2 separate regions of the Homo sapiens genome follow, and region 1 is linked to region 2. A link means that fine-mapping ties the variant in region 2 to the expression of a gene that starts in the linked region. Tissue or cell type: whole blood. Region 2 holds a variant in brackets; the other region holds the start of a gene. All regions are shown on one strand. Distances are between the middles of the regions.

Region 1 (2,500 bases), 220 kb after region 2:
AGATCACACCACTGCACTCCAGCATGGGTGACAGAGATTCTGTCTCAAAATAAATAAATAAGTAAAAATAAAAAAGTGGTTGTAGTCAAAGGCTATGGGTTTAAGTTGGGTAGTGGGATTTCAACATTTAAGGTTTTAGAGATGGAGCAGTATCAAGTGATGAATATCTAGATTTTCTAGACTACGGGTGAACAAAGTAGAAGTAAAGGTCATTCGGATTGAGGAACTGAAGGAAACCAGGCTGGGTTGTGGATGTTGGATTCATTGGGAGGATGGCAGTAAATCAGATGGAGAGGAAAACTAATGCCAGACAGTCAGTAGGTGACAGTGACAAGGGAGGGCAAAAGGTGTTACTACCAGATGGCACAGAGCCTGAAAGAGCTATTTCACAAGGGGAAGAAAGAATATCAGTGTCAAGCGGAAAGCTTCAAGAGTGAAGAAGACACACTACCTTTGAGGCTGGTGCATGGAGTGTGGGAGGGGAGAAACCAAGCGAGTAGACAGAGATGAGGCAATCTTTTGAATTGGATGACGGATAGATGTTGGTACCATCCGACCATTTGGGAAGTCCAGAGGGGAGGCTTTGTTTTCCGGGAATATGCTTAATTTGAGGAGTGGGAAATGGATAGAGGGTAGGTGAATGGTTAGAGATCTGCACAAAGCTGGAAGGCCCACGGGATCAAGTTCTGCCCATGACTGAGGGGTGACCTCCAATCCCTGGGCCTTAACCCCCAGGATCCCTGGACCTGGAACGCCCATTAGGTCCCCTCCTTTCCGGCGAGAGGGCGGCAGAGGGCGCAGGCGCTCTAGCCGGACCCGGCGGGCGGGTGGCAGAGGGCGCAGGCGCCCTGGACAGAGCGGCCGCAGTGGGAACGGCCGGCAGGGGGCGCAGCGCTCTGGTCCGAGAAGCCCGGGCGGGGCACCCTCGCCGGGAGAGTAGAGGATAGGGGTCGGCTGGAGAACGGGCCCAGTGCGAGGCCGCGAGCAGTGGGCGGGGCCGGGGTGGGGGCGGGGCGAGGCGGTTCCGGAAGGAAGTGGTTCCGGGTCCCGCGGCCCGGCAGAGGTGGCTGGGGTGTCGCTGCTGTGGGAGGCGGCGGCAGAGTGAGGGGCGAGGCCCGAGGGGCCGGCGGCGGCGGCGGCGGCGGCGGCGGCGGCGGCGGCGGCGGCGGCGGCGGGGGCTTCCCGGCCGGGTGAGCGGCTCGGGGGGAGGCGGGGCGAGGAGGCCTGGGCCCGCAGGGAGGGCGTGTCCGCCACCCAGGAGGGGCGGTTCTCGGGGTGGCGGATGGGGCAGCGGGGAGGATGCGGCGGTCCGACTCGGGTTCTGTTGGGACAGCTCCTCTGCGCCCCGTAGGTCCCTCGGTCAGCGCCTTCCCTTGGGCGCGGCGACCCGGCGCGGGTTTCCAGGGGACAGCTGCCCGGCGCCCCTGAGGTCCCTCGACAGGCACGGCGACCCGGGCACCTGCTGCCGCGACCCTGATCCTCCGCCGTCGTCGGGCAGGTTGCGGTCCCCGCGGTTCCCTGCATCTGTTAAGAGGGCGGGGGCCGGGAAGGCGGTGTCCGGGGACGGTGCCCTTGTCCTCGAGGCGGCCCTGGACGCGTCGCCTGCGGGGCCTGAACCGAGGACCCCCCCGTACCCCGCTTTGTCCTGGTGAGGCGCTCCTGCCGCGCAGCGGCATCTTCCTCTGTTAACGTCGAGAATGAGTAGTGAAGGCTGCTCATTATCCTGCATTGTAAAGTAAAACTTGTCTTTTTAGAAGCGTCTCCTGAAAATTGGCGCATCTCCTGTGCTTCTCTGGGTTGTATTGGGAAACTGGGCCAGTCGCTGTCAGGACTGTCCTGTTGGTAGGTCTCGAGGGAAAGAAATGGGAGAGAAACCTACCCCGTAAATATTTTCCTACTCAGGTGCTTTTCGAACTACCTATTAGGTGATTGCCTTTTTTTTTTTTTTTTTTTTTCCTGGAACAAATTACAAACTGCAGGTAGAAATCAGGAAGGCCTCTTTAGGCTCCTCGCCAGGCAGCCTTTTTAGCATTTTTCTGAATGTGAACAGGTCCAAACGACAGAGCAGAATTTGAAAAGAAAGGTTTTGCTGCAGATTCATAACGAGGACTTTATTTTTCATTGGTATTTTAATGGTAATGGTATAGCAATGTTTTATTTTTAATGTTTTTTTTAAATGGCTACTAAAATTTTATTTTGAAATCACAGCTGTTTCAGTCACCCCCAAGAAACCTTTAAAACGTCTTATTAGAAACATTTTTATATATAGGAACATTTAGCCATTTATACACATTTCTAAGATAGAAATCACAATGAAGATACGTTGTTTCACTATTCCAAGTTCCAAGTAACCATGGTGAATATGGTTTCCCCATTCCAAGTAACCATTGTGAATGTGGTTATACACCTCCAGTCTTTTTCTATGCAGAGCTTAATACATGAGTTTTTCTAAAGTGAATTCTCTTTTGTAATTATCTTTTTCTGACTAGATAGCATGCCA
Region 2 (2,760 bases):
AAAAGATCCACCTGCCCATAAATTTTCTCTTCATTTTTCCATGATGTCCAAAATGACACTCTTTACAGAATTGTAAAAGTATATGTTTCAACTGAACTGACTTTGTTTTATCCATCAGGGGTCATATCTCAACAGATATTTATCTAATAATAAATCTTTGAGATCCAGGTAAATTGTCTTAGTATCTCTAACACCTAGTACAATACCTGGCCCATAATTTGAATGGCCTTCCAACAAAAAGGAATGGTCCTAACAGAGTATGTCATAGATCAGAAACATTTTCACTGGGACCAGGCATTCAGGAAAAAGCAAAAGCAGGAGAGCCGCCTGAATTTTAGTTCTCTCTTGACCTCATTCTTCTCTACCTCTCTTTCATACTCTCTGATTTAAACTCTAGTGTCCAGGTGTGCTCCTGCTGTGGCCTTTGTACTGGCTTGTCCCTCTCCCAGGAATGCTTTTCCCCCAGGTGCTTGACTTTCTCACCTCCCTCAGGTCTTTCTCAAATAGCATCTTCTTAATAAAGCCTGCCCTGACTTCTTTATTGAAAATTACAACCCCCCCCTTTCCATATCTGCTATTCTCATCTCTTTACTCAACTCAATATCTTTTCTTCATAGTATTTATCATGTTCTAACCTTTATTTACCTATTATTATTATTTGGTCTGTTGTCAAAACGGCAAAGTTTTTGGTCCATTTGACTTATTGTATATCCCAGCGCCTAGAAGAGTACCTAGCATGTATCAGGTACTCAAAAATAAATGTTTAAATGGATGGATGAATGAATTAGTGAATTCCCGTACATAGCTTAAGGGTATTGAACACCTAGGCTGAGGGAGGTGGCAAATGTCTGAAAGGGGTGGAAATGTAGGAAGAATGAAAGAAGACGTGATGTAGATCTGCTGCCATCCTGAAAATTTTGCCCACAGTCAGACTTTTGCTTATCAAATCAACAGTCTTTGTAAAAATAATAGCATGGAATTTATTATTACTGTTTTTAAATGCACAAAGTAAGTTTTTTGTGGTAATGAATGGACAGATATCCATTTATCATTTAAAAAACAGTTGTGCCAGAGAATGTAAAAATATGTGAGCCTCACAGAATAATTAGAATGTATATAATTTATATCTGTGTTCCAGTTTATTAACATAATATTTTTCCATAAAACTATTAATATAGCTGCTTTACCATGTACTTATAGGCAAAAATACAGTTTTACAAAATGTCAAGTCAAACTATAATTTTATGTTTTCATGTGACAGATTTATTTCAGTAACAGGTGATTTAGTGACATAAGATATGTTTGTCACATGCACATGTCAGTCTGTTCTTGGCTTATCACTGCCCTTGGAAATCTGATATTCCTTTCTGCATCCATCTCATTAGATTCCAAGTATGAGCTAGAAAAGTACATTGTTGCTTTCCTACCTGTTGTCCAAGATTGCCCAAGCATTAGTATTATGTCCTGGTTGAACCTTAGATTCATTTCTAAAATAGTCATGGTCCCATGACCTGGTGACATTAAGTACAATCTGGGCATTGAGATCTCAACCCAGGATATTTTGCCTATTATACTACTGTAATTTTCCATATATATAAAGTAGATAGAAAATAGTTTGCTGGTGTGATTAGTA[A/G]AAATTTAAGTCTTATGAAATTTAAACTTAGAAGGAACAGAAAAGCGTGTTCAGGATAAAACAGTGGCAGGTTTTTGAAACTTGAGCCAATGCCAAACTTGCCACAGGAATTGATCTTTTCTCTCTACCCTCAAGAGTATTTTCCGTACTCTCTGAGTCCTGATTTAGAAAAATATTTTATAAATCCCTGTTTGTATCCCTAAAGAGGTTTGAAATGATTGCATCTGTTTTGGGGGGAAGAGAGTAGGGAGTGGAGGAAGATGCTTTTTAAAACACACATACACACACACACACACACACTAAGAAAAGGAACACTTGAAAATGTACTTTAAGATTTGCCAGGATAAAAAATTTAGTATGAAAGTGGGAAGATAAAGTCAAGAAAGTCTCTTAGAAAGTAGAGACAGTGCTGGACATGATGGCTCATTCCCGTAATCCCAGCACTTTGGGAGGCCAAGGCAGGCGGGCAACATGTTGAGACCCTGTCTCTACAAACAAATCAAAAAATTAGCCAGGTGTTGTGGCACATGCCCGTAGTTCCAGCTACTGGGGAGGCTGAGGTGGGAGGATCACTGGAGCCCAGGAGGTTGAGGCTGCAGTGAGCTGAGATCGCACCATTGCACTCCAGCGTGGGTGACAGAGTGAGACCCTGTCTCAAAAAAAAAAAAAAAGAAAAAAAGAAAAAAAAGTGGAAACAGAAAATAGGAGAAAAAAATGACATAAAGGATTCCATTTCAGACGTACAATATTCAACTAGTAGAAGAGTCACAAAAAGAGAAGCCCTGAAAAATGGGTGGAAGGAAATTATCAAAGATATGTTAGAATTCCCCACAAAGTTAAAGAATTCAGGTCTTTAGATTATAAAGGTTCACCAAGCATCTGGCATTCTGAAGGAAAGAAGACCCTATTTATCTCACTATTGGGGAATTTCAGAAACACAAGGACAGAGAAAATCTTTAAAGCTTCCAGAAGGAAAAACCAGACCTACCAAAAAGTGTGACTAGACTAGCATCACCCATCTCATCAGCAGAACTGGATGCTAGAAGGCAATGGATCTATGGTGTCAAAGTTCTGAGCCAAGATTATTTTTCTTCTGGAATTTGGTACTAAGCCAAACTATACAAATG

The links. PIP is the estimated chance that this variant, and not a neighbour inherited with it, causes the effect.
Region 1: BCLAF3 starts here. The variant in region 2 is fine-mapped to the expression of BCLAF3 in whole blood (TOPMed, PIP 0.94).

The regions. Positions count from the first base shown.
Region 1 is chrX:19,989,598-19,992,097 of GRCh38, reverse strand. It overlaps BCLAF3 (BCLAF1 and THRAP3 family member 3), which reads left to right and starts at 1,037. Exons shown (of 12, transcript NM_001367774.2): 1 at 1,037-1,190. It overlaps LOC729609 (a long non-coding RNA gene), which reads left to right and starts at 2,319. Exons shown (of 2, transcript NR_024440.1): 1 at 2,319-2,412. RefSeq lists silencers at 695-1,124, 1,165-1,214, 1,285-1,654.
Region 2 is chrX:20,214,386-20,217,145 of GRCh38, reverse strand. All of the region lies in intron 2 of RPS6KA3 (ribosomal protein S6 kinase A3), which reads left to right. Among named protein-coding and RNA genes, the nearest start is that of RPS6KA3, 51 kb to the left of the region's middle. The variant A/G (reference allele first, on the strand shown) is at 1,634.